Regions from separate parts of the Homo sapiens genome. Here region 1 is linked to region 2. The links come from fine-mapping of genetic effects on gene expression. Tissue or cell type: whole blood. Region 2 holds a variant in brackets; the other region holds the start of a gene. All regions are shown on one strand. Distances are from middle to middle.

Region 1 (8,101 bases), 38 kb after region 2:
ACCTGAGCAGAGAAAGCAAGTGGGGATCAGCTAAACCTCTTCCTCAGCCTGCGTGGCACCCAGGCCTTCCCTGGGCCCATCCCAAGGATGCTACCACCTTACCTTGATGTTCTTGGTGGCCTCAAAGCCGTCGAGCTGGTTGAGCAACTCCAGCATCGTGCGCTGCACTTCACTGTCCCCTCCAGAACCCCCCTCCAGCCGCGAGGAGCCGATGGAGTCGATTTCGTCCATGAAGATGATAGATGGAGCATGTTCCCGTGCCATGACAAACAGCTCCCTCACCATTCTTGCCCCTGTGTGGAGGCCGAGCTGGTGTTAGGGAGCTTATTAGCTTATTAGCTCTCTAACCCCCTACCCCTACCTCTTGCTTCTCACATTGCTAGCCATGGTTACCTTCCCCTATGAATTTCTGTACCAGTTCAGAGCCAGAGACACGAATAAAGGTACAGTCCGTATGATGAGCCACAGCCCGGGCCAACAGTGTCTTCCCAGTGCCTGGAGGTCCATACAGCAGCACTCCCTACAGGGGAACAGCAGGACTCAGGGCAGAAAGCTACACCCCTCATTTCATTCAGTGAACATTTACCGAGTGCTGGGTCCCTTGCTAGATGTTAGGGATACAAAAAAAAAAAAGGAACATCAAGGTCCCTTCTATCCAAACCACCTCACCGCCCTAGGAACACTTCCCCAGCCACTCTTTTCAGGGGGAGGGCCAGCCCAAGCAAGATGCAGCCTATCCCGGTGCCTCCCCAACCCCTGCAGTAGGGCTGGCTGGGGCAGGAGGAGTAAGTACAGCTTGGCCCTCTCAGAGAAGCCCTGCTCCTCACCTTGGGCTGAGCAATGCCCAGTGCTTCGAAGAGCTCAGGATGCTTAACAGGCAGCTCGATCACTTCTTTGATCTCCTTGATCTGTTTGTCCAGTCCACCAATCATCTCATAAGTTGAATCTGGTACTTTCTCCACCATCATCAGTGACACTAATGGGTCTACCTTGTTGGGCAGGATCTTGTGCAGAGTGTAGCTGTCATTCCTTAGAGCCACCCGGCAATTGGGTGTCACCTGGGTGAAGGGGGCGAGTTTCAGAAGTGGTACAGTAAGAGCTGACCCCACCACCACCACCACCTCACCTGCTACACTCACATCATTGATGTCAATGTTTTTGTCCACGTCTACAACAAATTTACCTTCAGGATGTACCTAAAGAAACAAGGGCTCATGACCTTCCTTGACAGCCACCAAATCACTAATCCTACCCAGGAAGACCTATGAGAATCCCACAATACCTTGACAGAACACAGAACCCTGTCTCCCGAGGCTACACACAAAGGGGTGGGAATGCAGTGGAGACCGAGCTGGTCCCTGGGGTCATGCTGCTTTTACCTTGACCAACACTTTCTTCTTATCCATGGCCCGGACTACTTCCCCCACATAGGAGCCCTGCTCCTGCAGCAGCTGTAGCTCCTCCCGCAATAGGCGAACTAGATGGCAAACAGACACAGTGGTCACCTAGCTACTCCTTTGGAGTCTCCAGGACCCAATTCTACGTGCATGAGCTAAGCATCACTCTTATTAAAGGAAGGCCAAAGGTCAAAATTCATGTATTTAAGGAGGCTACAATAGGGCTCAGGAAAAAGAGATGCATGTGAAACTACTAGATGATGACAGGGAGAAAACAGTAAGCACTGCTGTGAAGACACAGTGCAGGGAGATAAGGACAGACCTCAGACAAACTGCCCACATGCGGCTTCCCATCTTTCTCCACTCACCTTTAGCATTTAGTTCGTTCCTCTGTGCCTGCAGCCTCCGGAGGTTTTGGCTCTTATCATTCACAATCAGCTGTGGCAGACAAGAGACAAATTCCATTATTCAAGGGCAGGAGACAGGAGGAGGTAGGATCTTGGCCAAGACCTCACAGGTCTGAATGAGCTGAGGGAAGGGCACAGGGCACCTGCATGTTGTTTCAGATTCTCCAGTATGATCCTAATGACCCTGCCCTGTCCTTCAAGAGTCCCTCTGGACCTTACAGCAGCCATCAAAGAAGGCTGCTTGTCCAATACTGGTCCAGGAGTAACAGAATCTAATGGAGAAAAGTTACAGCTGGCTCATGTAACACCAAATTTCTTGCAGGAAGGCAACAACACCTGGTGGAAAGATTGTTAGGTGAGAAACCTGAGTTCTAGCCCAGCCGCTGTCAATCAAAAGCAAAGTAAAGGTAAGACAATCTATTTTTAAAAATCTAGATCTGTTACCAAACGGCACATGGGTATAGCATCAGCTACCCTGCTTCAAGACTACTAAGGTGAACGAATAAAAACACATGAAAAAGCATTCAAAAATGGTAAACTAAACATAATACCTGCAAATGCACTTGGAATTCAGAATTGTCTTTTGTGGCTTTCCCCCATCCAATTTATATTACAGTTGACACTTGAACAACGCAGGGGGTTAGGGTGAAATTGAAAATCCATGGACCTGTCCAAAGTTAAACTACTAACAGCCTACCGTAACAGTATAACGTAACACTAACAGACTACTGTTTATGTTGTCTGTAAGGCTTACTACTGGAAGCCATACCTTACTGCTGGAAGCCTTACTGGTAACACAAACATTTGATTAACAACATAAACGGTCCTTTTTCTATGGTTTAGCGCTTTAGGCTAGGGCTCTGGGTTGCCCAATTTCTTTCATTCAGTCTCTATGGAATTAGCATTGTCCAGATCCCTCAATGATGCCCTTCCTCACATTCTCACTTCACCCTCACCCAACCTCTTGGTGATAAATTTCAACTCCTGAGCTTATGTTTCCCTTTTATAAGAATCCTTTTCATTCGGGCTTCTTCCAAAAGGGTTGACCTTTGGCTAGAGGTACCTTTACTATTAAGATTTGACTCGAAGATGTGTAACAAACTGTGAACACTAAGACCCTCAAAGAGATGGGACTGGAGGAGAACAAGAGATTGCTTACTTCTGATACATACACCCTACTAGCTAAGAAACAAACAAGAAAGGAGAAGCAGCAGCTTCTTCCACTGCACTCCCAAAGGAATTAGATGGATTTGTGGAAGTCCGTTTCCATCCCCCATCATCACCCTTCCTAGCTCCCTCTGGAGTCCGTCCTCACCTGGAGTTCTTCAATCTTGGACAGATAATATTGGCGGAGTCCGCTGCCTGCCTTCCCCTCCTCCAGCTCCATCTGAAGACACAGAGTGAGTCTTAAACGACAGGTTAAACATCCGAGGGGGTAAAGCCACTTGCAGGGCACTTTGAATAAGGCTTGACACCAGGTAGCTTTGCGTAGTAGAAAAAGTTTGGACTTCGGAGGCTCAGGATCTGGGTTCTAATCCCTCCCTCCCTTGGAACCCTCCATTTTCCCAGGACTAAAATAAAAGAATGGGAACGCCGCCTACCTCATACGACTTTTAGGAGGACCGAGAGGCGATATGATATAGACGGGGGGCGCTTTGCACTGCGTGAAGTGCTCTACAAGCCCGAGGTGTCAGTACTGACGAAGGAGCCAGCGGAACGGAGCCAAAGGACTGGCGTCCCGTCTCCTGCGACCCGTGGGCCGGCCATTCCCGCGCCCATCGCTTCCCTCACTCACTCCGCTTCTACCGCGTCTTCCTCTCCCAGCCTTGCCCTGACTCACCGAGGGCGGCGCTGACACAGCAGATCCGGTCGCAGGCAGCGTCCAGCATGGACTGGTCCAGGCACCTCCGACCCACCCGACGCTCCTGCCCCGGCCCGCTCTCCACTCAGATCACGCTCGCTCCGCACCCAGCCCCGTAACCTGCCGGGCCGCCACTGCACCCGCCATACCTGCTCTGGTCCGTCAAGCGCCATCTTCTCTCTTCAGCAGAGACCGCCGGCATCCGAGCCGTCTTGGCGCGCAAGCGCGGAAGCGGAGGATTGGGACCTGAAGACCAGGCAGAGAAGAATTCCGGGTCAATGGGCGGGGTGTGCGGCGAGACCACACTAAGGGAACCATGATGGGAGGGGCGGCTACTCGAGTTCAGGGGCTTTGGAAGGGGATGAGGAAGGAGTAGAACTCCTCCTCAGTGTTGCCTCATTGAAACTCTGTTTATAGTTCTTGTGATATGCCTTCCTAGTCTCAACTTTCAACTTACAAAACCCAAGGACAGAGTATTGAGAACAATCTAGGGCCACACTCAAAATGGCGGAAAACCTCGAGCCAGGGACGCAGGGGACGCAAGCGGAAGCGGAAGTAGTTAGCTGCATACTTGTGCGGTTCCAAGTGTGGAGAAAGCGGCTCTGGGTCTAGGTAGTGTGCGGAGAGGGGCGCGGGGTGGAATTGCTGCGGGAAGTGGGAAACTGGAAGTGGGAAACTGGAAGTGGAATCTGGTGCTCCGGAAAGAGACGTTCCCAACTTCTACTTTCTCCCCAGATTGAGGGATACTCCCCCTTTCCACCATGGGCAAGAAGGGCAAAGTTGGCAAGAGCCGACGAGACAAGTTTTATCACTTGGCGAAGGAGACGGGTGAGTCCGGATTCGCTCAGTCTGCGAGCGAGCGAGCGATCTCTGCCCGGTTCGCCTGCTCTTTGCGACCATTATGTACCTCTCCTGCAGAAGGGGTGGTCGGTTGCGAGGCCGGAGAAATCCTACTAGTGAAGCAGTTTGCGCACTTGGTTGTTTTGTCCAGGTTACCGTTCCCGATCTGCTTTCAAGCTGATCCAGCTCAATCGCCGCTTTCAGTTCCTGCAGAAAGCCCGAGCCTTGCTGGACCTGTGTGCTGCGCCAGGGGGATGGTTCGTAACACTCGCCACAGGTTGCTCCTGGTGGCCGCTTTCTGGGTTCTGAGCTGGGATGGCTTCCAGTTTCACTGCGGGAGGGGAACCCGAATCCCGGTCCTCTTGGGGGCCGTTTCCTTTCTTGATTGCAGAGAAAGGGCTTGGAATACGTGCCTATGATATGCTTTGGCCAGTACACGTAACACCAGGGATGAGAGATCAGTTGCCAAGAGGGGGAAAAGGATGGCTCTAGGTTTTTAAATTTCTGTTCCTTTTATAGGCTGCAGGTAGCTGCCAAGTTTATGCCTGTATCCAGCCTTATTGTGGGTGAGTAACGGACAGCTCTCCTTGGTGTTTTAAGGGGTGGGTGTATAAGGTATTTTGTCCTGTATTTCTCTCCTCCCTGCTTGAAGCAACCTTTTAGAATACTCTGACCTGATTTCTTCCAGGAGTGGACCTGGTTCCAATCAAGCCTCTCCCCAATGTGGTGACTCTCCAGCAGGACATCACAACAGAACGTTGTAGGCAGGTAATAGGAGTCTCTCTCTTCCTTCCCCCTTTATACGGAAACATCTACATCCCTGAAATCCTCTAAAGGCAAGTTTTTCCTTTTTACCGTGCTTTGAGCACGTTCTTGCCTGACATCTGTACGACAAGACCTATGGCATTCGTAGTGTCCACTCCAGGCTTTATTTAGAGTCAGGGATAAAGGTGTTTGGAATTGGGAGAAGGGCAGAGATCTTTAGTGAAGTCTTCTCCTGTGAATTCAGTGTCAGACTGTAATCTCCATGAAGGTAGAGACATACTGTTTTTGTTTACTATTGTATCTCCTGTGCCTGGTACTGCATTTGGCCCATGATGGGCACTCAGCAAATGACTAGATGGACAAATGGCTGAACCAGGGCCATTCCAGTGTTTCTGTTTCCATAGTTCCTTTTCTTCTCTTTAGGCCCTGAGGAAGGAGCTGAAGACCTGGAAGGTTGATGTTGTGCTCAATGATGGGGCCCCCAACGTTGGGGCTAGCTGGGTCCATGATGCTTACTCACAAGGTACAGGGAGTGTGGTGCTTGGAGATCAGGTGATGGTGGAGGTGGGCGCATGCCCTCCTGGGCTGCAGAGTGCGTCAACTAATTGTCTCTATCCTACAGCCCATTTGACACTGATGGCTCTACGTTTGGCTTGTGACTTTTTGGCCCGTGGTGGCAGCTTCATCACAAAGGTTTTCCGTTCTCGTGACTATCAGCCTCTGCTATGGATCTTTCAGCAGCTGTTCCGCCGTGTCCAGGCCACCAAGCCCCAAGCCTCTCGCCATGAATCTGCAGAGATCTTTGTAGTCTGCCAAGGTGGGCATCATTTCCTTTCTCTTGATCCAGGCTCCCAACTCCCAAAGCACACTTTTTAATATATCCTGTCATTTTTAGGATTCCTGGCCCCTGACAAGGTTGACAGTAAATTCTTTGACCCCAAATTTGCCTTTAAGGAGGTTGAAGTTCAGGCTAAGACCGTTACTGAATTGGTTACTAAGAAGAAGCCAAAGGTGTGTTTTGGGGAATGGGGTCACTCTTGGGTCCTGGAACTCTAGGGAGGTTGGGCCTGGTGGGTCCTACAGGTACCTTAGAAGGGCCTGACCAAGCTTCTCTCTTTTCCTTCCTAAGGCTGAAGGCTATGCTGAGGGTGACCTCACTCTCTATCACCGTACCTCAGTCACTGACTTCCTCCGAGCTGCCAACCCTGTTGACTTCCTCTCCAAGGCCAGCGAAGTGAGTCTCCAGCCTTGAGGGACATGAGGTAGCCCCAGAAACATGGCCTGAGGATCTCCCCTGACACCTTTCCATCCTCCCAAACAGATCATGGTAGATGATGAAGAGTTGGCACAGCATCCAGCTACCACTGAGGACATACGGGTGTGCTGTCAGGACATCAGAGTGTTGGGGCGCAAGGAGCTCAGGTATGGAGTGGGGTAGGCACGGGGGCCAGGAGCCCTGGAGGCAGGGAAAGGCCATGATGTTGGACCTCTGGGAAGAGGATATTGCTGTGCTAAAGGTTTGGGATGGGGGCCTGAGCCTTTTGATTTATGTAGCCGAAGCCCGAAAGGTGGGTAGTGAGCCTAAAACAGAAGGGGGCGGGGACAAAGAGGGAGATGGCAAGATCAGTAATAGTATCTCTGGGGCAGGTCGCTACTAAACTGGAGAACAAAACTTCGGCGATATGTGGCCAAGAAGCTGAAAGAACAAGCAAAGGCACTGGACATCAGGTGAGGAGAGAACGCAGCGAGGCAGGTGTGGACTGGGTGTCCAGGGGAAAAGTCTGGGAAAATAACCCAACTCTTGGGACTGTTTTGCCAGCCTCAGCTCTGGAGAGGAAGATGAAGGTGATGAGGAGGACTCAACAGCTGGAACCACAAAGCAGCCCTCTAAGGAGGAGGAGGAAGAGGAGGAGGAGGAACAACTGAACCAGACCTTGGCAGAAATGAAGGCCCAGGAGGTGGCGGAATTGAAGAGGTGAAAGGAGCTGGGGTAGAGCTTGGAGTTCCCCAACGCAGGGACTGTGTGAAGATGGGAGAAGAAAATGCAAGGCATGGATAGAAACTTTGGAGCTGGGCCGGTTTTACTCCCTCAATCCACCCCCTCAGGAAGAAAAAGAAGCTGTTGCGTGAGCAGAGAAAGCAGCGGGAGCGTGTGGAGCTGAAGATGGATCTGCCTGGGGTTTCCATTGCAGACGAGGGGGAGACTGGCATGTTCTCCTTGAGCACCATCCGGGGTCACCAGGTGAGGCGGCATTGGGGGTGCAGGTTTAGGAGACAGAAGGATCTGTTTGGGTGTTTGGAGGTGGGGGGTGTTGAATGTCTTTTTAGGTTGCCGAACGATAGGCTGTGGTTGCTGTCTTCACCACAGGGTGCCTTGGTGAGTATAAGGCCACAAAGAAACATAAACCAAAAAGGATGAGTTAGGTAGATAGATGAGTGTGATAGATTTATTTTTTTTTTTTTTGAGACGGAGTCTTGCTCTGTTGCCCAGGCTGGAGTGCAGTGGCACGATCTCGGCCCACTGCAAGCTCCACCTTCCAGGTTCACACCATTCTCCTGCCTCAGCCTCCCGAGTAGCTGGGACAACAGGCGCCTACCACCACGCCTGGCTAATTTTTTGTATTTTTAGTAGAGACGGGGTTTCACCGTGTTAGCCAGGATGGTCTCGACCTCCTGACCTCGTGATCTGCCCACCTCGGCCTCCCAAAGTGCTGGGATTACAGGCGTGAGCCACCGCGCCCGGCTGATAGATTTATTCTTGAAGAACTAGAACATCAGAAAAGAACTTAGGTTATAGTAGATGCTGCCAGGTTACTTGAGTTTCAAGCACA
Region 2 (8,101 bases):
GGGTTGCATGACGATGTCAATGTACTTGACATGACTGAACTGTACACGTAAAATGGTTAAGATGGAAACGTTTATATCTTCTCACAACTAAAAATTGTTAATACTTTATTTTTGTTTTTGTTTTTGAGACAGAGGCTGGAGTGCAGTGGTGGGATCTTGGCTCACTGCAACCTCCGCCTCCTCCCGGGTTCAAGTGATTCTCATGCCTCAGCCTCCTGAGTAGCTGGGATTATAAGCGTGCACCACCACACAGGGCAGATGTTTGTATTTTTGGTAAAGACAGGGTTTCGCCATGTTGGCCAGGCTGGTCTCAAACTCCTGGCCTCAGGTGATCCACCCTTCTTGGCCTCCCAAAGTGATAGGATTACAGGCGGGAGCCACCAGGCCTGGCTCTTATTGGTATTTTCTAATGAAAACTCTTCCTGAAGATAAGATTAGCAAGACTCACACAAGGAAGAGTTCAGCAGGCAGAGCTCCAGTCATCCTTGACCCCTGGCATAATGTTTTACTGACTCTGTCATTTTTTTTGAATTTACCCTAACCTAAAATGACCACTTCTGAATTTCTTCCATGAGCATTGTCCAAATACACATGGTGGGTTTTGTCCCTTTATACACAGTTGAGAGCAGAACTGACCCCTTCCCTTTTCTTCTGAATTATAGGGTCTGGGCTTCTAGGCCAAGACAAGCTGACACTTTGCCTGGATGCTTCTTTAATTCAGAAGGCCCTGGAGTGCTGAGGCACACAATGAGCACCGCTGGGATTAGGGTCACCAACTCGTCCTGGTTTGCAGGAGACTTTCTCAATGTCAACACTGGAAGTCCCACATTCCTTCCAGGAATCCCTCAGCTCAATGCAAACTCAGCTCACAGGACTGGTCACCCTATTAGTAGTCCTAAATCTTAGGGGACCAAACTGGGGGGAAAGTAGGGGAAGGAGCAAGAAAAAGAGTAGAAAAATCAGAAAGCTGCACACGGTGTATATGACTTTTGATGGTGCTCAAGGTTACCATGGATTTCTGATTCTTGCTTTGAGTTTACTGTGATTATAATGATGTGCTTAATTACCACCAGAATTATCAGTGTAATCACAAAAACCAACAAATGTAAACACATGTCTCCAGCAACATGCTAGTTTATTGCAAGTATTATGTCATTTCTTTCTAAGTATAATCTTCTAAGGTAAATACTATTATTAATCCTATGGTAAGAAGTCCCACTAAAGATGTAACTTACTCTTTCTCAGGTCTAAAGACAAAGACGCCAGAATGTCACCCTGACCATCCTTGAGAGGATAAACTGCCAGGCACAGTGGCTCAAGCCAGTAATCTCAGCACTTTGGGAGGCCGAGGCGGGAGGAGATCAGGAGTTCAAGACAAGCCTGGCCAAAATGATGGCACCCCGTCTCTACTAAAAATACAAAAATTAGCCAGGTGTGGTGGTGCACACCTGTATTCCCAGCTACTGAGGCACGAGAATCGCTTGAGCCCGGGAGGCAGAGTTGCGCTGAGCCCATCATGCCACTGCACTCCAGCTGGGTGGCTGAGCAAGATTCTCTCTCAAAAATAATAAGAAAGAGGATAAAATTTTGGAGTATTAAAGGCCACTCTTCCTCTGGAGATAATCAAGATACCTGCAATTTAAGCGTGAGCTGGTTGCTTTAATGTTCAGAAAGAATATGATCAAAATCATTTAGGGGTGGGGCCTCCTCCTATAGACAATGAGGCAGCTACCCTTAGAAGCTCTATCATACTGGAAAAGAGATATGAGACCCTTCCTGCTTTCAGAATCAATGAAGCCAGGCGTGGTGACTCACGCCTGTACTCCCAGCACATTGGGAGGCCAAGGTGGGCAGATCACCTGAGGTCAGGAGTTTGAGACCAGCCTGGCCAACATGATGAAACCCTGTCTCTACTAATAACACAAAAATTAGCCGGGTGTGGTGGCAGACACCTGTAATCCCAGCTACTCTAGAGGTTGAGAAGGGAAAATTGCTTGAAGCCGGGAAGCAGAAGTTGCAGTGAGCCGAGATTGCGCCACTGCACTCCAGCCTGGGAGACAGAGCGAGACTCTGTCTCCAAAAAAAATAAAAAGAAAAGAAAAAAAAGAATCAATGAGAAGGGGCTGCCTGCCTGACCACTGGTTGTGTGGATCCTTCGGGAAGGAAAGCGAACAGAGGTTCCAAGTCTACAAGGGAAACAGCCCAGCCTACTCTGAAGAGCTTTGCGGGACGGCTCATCCAAACTACTGAGCTCTAAGAACTGGAACCCTGGAAACCCCAGCAAGAGGACACCCGCTGCTGGACCAGGCCCCGAAGAAGCAGATCATCCTCCCTCAGAGATCCACAGCAGGTAGGAACCCAGATCTGCAGACCCGCTTGGTTTGAGGGTACTGTGTGGGACCATCTGTCCACACTGACACCCTGTGGCAGTGAGAAGCAAAGGCAGCAGCCGGTTGAGCCTCCAGGATCTCCCTGCTGGAACTAGAAAGTCCAAGTGGCCCCCTTCTTCCCTCTTTTTTTGGTTTTGTCTTGTTTTTTGTTTGTTTGCTTTTGTTTTTGTTTTCTTCAAGATGGGGTGTCACTCTGTTGCCCAGGCTGGAGTGCAATGGCACGATCTCGGCTCACTGCAACTCTGCCTCCCAGGTTCAAGCGATTCTCCTGCCTCAGCCTCCCCAGTAGCTGGGATTACAGGTGCACACCGGCATGCCTGGCTCATTTTTCCCTTCCTTTTTGGATTCGCTGTGCTTCAAGGCACTGAGGCCATGAGGCAGGGTTTGCAGATACAAGATAACTATAGCCTTGATGTGGCTGATCCTGACACCGAAATGTCTGTGGATCCCTGCATGGGGCAGCTCTATACTCCTGTCTCTTAAACCTGCTTCTTAACTTACTTCCCCAAATGCTCAATTCAGGGAAGGTGGATGATTTATATTAGACTCACATGATGAGAGAGCAGTAGCTCCACCTAGTGGAAACATTGAGGTTGAAAAGGTCATGTTCCGGGATGATGCTATTTTACAAAGTCAAGATATTTCGTGTCCCTCCAGGAAGCCTTCCTTGATCCGAGTTATGCTTTCTCTTAACAATCTGTTTTCCCAGTCATAGGAGTTCATGCTCAAATGTAATGAACTTTTTTGTTCATTACATACTTGTTTGTCTTGCTTTCCTAATAAATTTGTGGAAGCCAGGGACAATGTTTTGTTCACCACTGTATCCCCACTGCCTTGTATGTGGTGAAACGAAAAGCTTATTATTTTTTTTCTTTTTTCTTTTTTTGGAGACGGACTCTTGCTCTGTCCCCAGGCTGGAGTGCAGCAGAGCGATCTCGGCTCACTGCAAGCTCTGCCTCCCGGGTTCACGCCATTCTCCTGACTCAGCCTCCCGAGTAGCTGGGACTACAGGTGTCCACCACCATGCCCAGCTAATTTTTTTGTATTTTTAGTAGAGACGGGGTTTCACCGTGTTAGCCAGGCTGGTCTCGATCTCCTAACCTTGTGATCCGCCCC[C/G]CTTGGCCTCCGAAAGTGCTGGGATTACAGGCATGAGCCACCGTGCCTGGCCTTCCAAAGGGTTATTTTTATACTTAATCTATAACACCAGACTTAGGGGAGGTCTGGGAAGAATGGAAAAACATTTTCCCTCTGCTGTCTGATACCATGGTTTTTTCTAGCTAGTATCTGCAATTTGGAAGGCTATGGACCTCTCTCTATCTGGAAGTCTGAACTTTAGTTTTTGTTTTTGTTTCCTTTGTTTTGTTTTTGAGACAGGGTCTGGCTCTGTCGCCCAGGCTGGAGTGCAGTGCATGATCTCAACTTGCTGCAACCCTCCATCTCCTGTGCTCAAGTGATCCTCCCACCTCAGACTCTCAAGTAGCTGGGACTACAGGCACGTGCCAGTATACCTGGCCTAGTTTTGTATTTTTTGTAGAAATGGGGTTTTGCCATGTTGCCCAGGCTATTCGCAAACTCCGGGGCTCAAGTGATTCACCCGCCTCAGCCTCCCAAAGTGCTGGGATTACAGGCGTGAGCCACTGCCCCCGGCCTGAATTTCAGTTTTGAAAGCAGGTCAAATAGGCTGCTGCCCTGAGCTAATGCACCCCCTGCCCTGAGCTGGTTGTTTATGCTATCAACACGGTATTTTTTCCTTAGAAATTGTACTTAAAGTTATAAAATGCAGCCAAGAGCGGTGGCTCACGCCAGTAATACCAGCACTTTAGGAGGCCAAGGTGGGTGGATCGCGAGGTCAGGACTTCAAGACTAGCCTAGTCAAGATGGTGAAACCCTGTCTCTACTAAAAATACAAAAAATTAGCTGGTCATGGCGGTGGGTGCCTGTAATCCCAGCTACTCGGGAGGCTGAGGCAGAGAATTGCTTGAAACTGGGAGGTGGAGGTTGAAGTGAGCCGAAATCGCGCCACTGCACTCCAGCCTGGGCAACAGAGTGAGACTCCATCTAAAAAAAAAAAAAGAAAAAGTTATAAAATGCAACCATTTGACATAATAAGAGCTTTCAGCGGCCAGGCACAGTGGCTCACGCCTGTAATCCAGCCACTTTGGGAGGCCCAGGTGGGCGAATCAAGTCAGGAGATCAAGACCATCCTGGCTAACACAGTGAAACCCTGTCTCTGCTAAAAATACAAAAAATTAGCCCGGCATGGTGGCATGTGCCTGTAGTCCCAGCTACTTGGGAGGCTGAGACAGGAGAATGGTGTGAACCCAGGAGGCGGAGCTTGCAGTGAGCCGAGATCGTGCCACGGCACTCCAGCCTGGGCGACAGAGCAAGACTCTGTCTTAAAATAAATAAATAAATAAATAAATAAATAAATAAGAGGTTTCAGCAATGACACAGAAGGGAAGGGAACTGCATTTGGACATCATAAAACCACTTTTATTTTTACCATAGCAACATTCCAGTGAACATTTCTTGACTGATTTGGGAGAAAAGATCTGGTTTGGTGATTCCTCACGCCTTCTCTGAGGGTGAATATACTCTTTCCCAAGGACAGGGAAGGAAGCAGAATCATAAAATCATATGAACATTTTCACAAGAGGATTCTTCTTGAAGCTTCAAGGAAATTGCTTACAGACAGAAGAAAATATGTCCTTATTGATGAAAAGGGAGAGTAAACATTGCAACTCTAACCTAGACACCCACATGGGTACAAAAAAAAAACTGACAAATGCGAACTCACAGTTGATCACTCTATGAAAAGGAATTCAGAGATGTTTGGAGCTCTTAACCTATGAGGCCAATTTCATGGAAGAACTCTACCTTCTACTTCAGAGACAGAACACTGGGCTAGATAGGATGCTTGTCTGGCCCAAAGTGGAATTTCTTACCATCTGTATACTCCCCCAAGACCCACAACAGATGGTTACTGAGTTGAAGCTTGCCACTGATCCTTAATGATGTCAACAAGCTCAGCTCTGGGAGCTGGCCCTCCAGAAGCCCAGGTCAGGGGAGCAAGGGAAAGTGGAGATGGGAACAGAGCTCTGATTCCTAGCCCCATATTTGATACTTACTCCCTTCAAAGTCCTGTCCCTGGACTACAAATTTAGTTCCCAGTTAGTAATCAGAAAACCATGAAATATGAGTTGCATTTCTAAGATGTGCCTGACTTTAGTATGATATTTAAGAGAAAAGGGCAGTGGAAACCATAAAGAAACAGCAGGATCTTTTTTTTGTATCTAAGAGTGGACTGATGAAGCACCTGGCAAGGAGCAAGAGGCCTTCTTACAAATCAAACATTGAGACTGAGATTCTTAATGACTAGAGTGAGCTCTAAAGAGAAAGGTGGCTGGGCGCGGTGGCTCACACCTGTAATCCCAGCACTTTGGGAGGCCAAGGTGGCCGGATCACTTGAGGTCAGGAGTTTGAGACCAGCCCAGCCAACATGGTGAAACCCCATCTCTACGAAAAGTACAAAAATTAGACAGGCATGGTGGTGTGCACCTGTAATCCCAGCTGCCAGGGAGGCTGAGGCAGGAGAATCACCTGAACCCGGGAGGCTGCAGTTGCAGTGAGCCAGGATCGCATCATTGCACTCCAGCCTAGGCGACAACAGCAAGACTCCATCTCAAAAAAAAAAAAAAAGAAAAAGAAAAAGAAAAGAAAAGAGAGAGAGAGAGAGAATGGTGAGCTTGTGGACATATTGGACACACAGGACATGGGGCATGGGGGCCTGAAACACCGTTTTACAGGACAGACGTACACAAAGGGGAATGCAGCCTGCCATTGTGTTTCTTCCTTTCTCCTCTATCCCTTCTTCCCTCCCTGGGAAACCACAGTAGCAGAAGTCTCATTCAATCAAACAGTTGTCAATTATATGAGTTGTACTTTTCTCTTCCTGAACAGCAAACTGGCTTTCCTCCTCTTTGTCCTCCTCTTTCTGCCTATAGAGCAATTTCCTCCTGTCCACTTTGCAGGGCCGATAGCTCAAATACAGTGCTATGGTGATGACACCCACTCCAAGGGCAACGGTAATAATGACAAAGAGGGTAGAGCTTATTCCTTCATCCAGTCCTGCCCAAGCACAGAAGATAGAGTTAGGAAAGTCTGAGAGTACAAGGATCACCCACCCCAGCCCACCAGGCCCACTTCTGAGTCTCATTCTTCCCAACCTAGTAGAATCTTTCTTATTTTCATGCTTAGATAAGAATCCCAAACTCCTGAGGGGTTTCCATCCTGGGCCTGGCAGCAGGGCAGCAAAGGTTACCTTGAACAATGACAGCAATGTCTTTGCTGACAGAGCCCAGCTGGTTAGTGGCTGTGTAGCGGTAGGTTCCAGTGTGGTTCTAGGTTGCCTTCTGTGGCACTTCAAGGTCAAAGACCACCCCATTCCAGGTACACACCAAGGCTGGAGCTGGGTTTCCCTTTGGGACGCAGGCGAGCGTGTGTTCCATCCCTTCCAGCCAGGTCTGTTTGCCAGGGCAACTGGATTCCTCTAACTGTGGCTTGCCTGCAAAAACAGTTTCCCAAAGAGCTGAGTTCAGTGCACCACACTCCCTCCCTACCTTCACCCCCTGCTCCCTCTCCTCCCCTCACCCAAATGCTGTCCCCTCCACCCAACAGCTTTCCTTCCCAAGGGAGCACTAGCAGCTCCCTGCTTTGAGCCAACTCTTCTTTCCCACCTTCTCTATCGGTAGGGAGTCCCAGATGAAACCTAGGGTGTTTTTTTTGTTCGTTTGTTTGTTTTGAGATGGAGTCTTGCTCTGTCGCCAAGCTGGAGTATGTACAGTGGCGCGATCTCAGCTCACTGTAACCTCCACCTCCCAGGTTCAAGCGATTCTCCTGCCTCAGTTTCCAGAGTAGCTGGGACTACAGGCATGTGCCCCCATGCCCAGCTAATTTTTGTATCTGTAGTAGAGATGGTGTTTCACCATGTTGGCCAGGATGGTCTCGATCTCTTGACCTCATGATCCGCCCGCCTTGACCTTCCAAAGTGTTGGGATTACAGGCGTGAGTCACCAGGCCCCGCCAAAACCTAGGGTGTTTTTACGGATTCAGACTACATGATAACCCTGCTCTGTCCATGGTGGCCCTGGGGCCCCTGCTTCCCATCTTTGCTTCTCAGTGGGTAAGGAGCTAGGTAGTGGTGAACTCAGAGATGAGGATTTTTTCTTTTCTTTTTTTTTTTTTTTTTTTTTTGAGACGAAGTCTCGCTTTGTCATCCAGGCTAGAATGCAGTGGCGTGATCTCAGCTCACTGCCACCTCCGCCTCCCAGGTTTCAAGCAATTCTCCTGCCTCAGCCTCCTGAGTAGCTGGAATTACAGGCACCCACGATCATGCCTGGCTAATATTTGTATTTTTAGTAGAGACAGGGTTTCATCATGTTGGTCAGGCTGCTCTTGAACTCCTGACCGCTAGCCATCCACCCGCCTCAGCCTCCCAAAGTGCTGGGATTACAGGCGTAAGCCACCGCACCTGGCCTATTTTCTCTACTCTTCAAAATAGAAATGTGTATATGGAATTTTTGGAAATTTCCCTTTTCAGCATAAACTCCCACTATCACTTCCTTTGTTCTCCTCGGCCATCGACCCTTAATTAATATTGCCTGATCACTTTAACTCCTTTCCTTTATGTTCCCAATTTCCCCTCATCTGGT

The links. PIP is the estimated chance that this variant, and not a neighbour inherited with it, causes the effect.
Region 1: it holds the start of PSMC5, and the variant in region 2 is fine-mapped to the expression of PSMC5 in whole blood (TOPMed, PIP 0.93).

Annotation. Positions count from the first base shown.
Region 1 is chr17:63,823,228-63,831,328 of GRCh38, reverse strand. PSMC5 (proteasome 26S subunit, ATPase 5) reads right to left here and starts at 3,898. Exons shown (of 12, transcript NM_002805.6): 1 at 3,815-3,898; 2 at 3,120-3,191; 3 at 1,766-1,835; 4 at 1,380-1,477; 5 at 1,140-1,196; 6 at 828-1,058; 7 at 394-520; 8 at 103-293; 9 at 1-2. The coding sequence starts at 3,838. FTSJ3 (FtsJ RNA 2'-O-methyltransferase 3) reads left to right here and starts at 3,666. Exons shown (of 21, transcript NM_017647.4): 1 at 3,666-4,277; 2 at 4,401-4,493; 3 at 4,657-4,762; 4 at 5,025-5,071; 5 at 5,194-5,273; 6 at 5,694-5,793; 7 at 5,893-6,087; 8 at 6,166-6,281; 9 at 6,400-6,504; 10 at 6,592-6,692; 11 at 6,918-6,998; 12 at 7,090-7,245; 13 at 7,377-7,512. The coding sequence starts at 4,427. RefSeq lists enhancers at 3,508-3,557, 3,938-4,217, 3,354-4,553.
Region 2 is chr17:63,861,142-63,869,242 of GRCh38, reverse strand. It overlaps the pseudogene TCAM1P. Among named protein-coding and RNA genes, the nearest start is that of CSH2, 8.5 kb to the left of the region's middle. The variant C/G (reference allele first, on the strand shown) is at 3,507.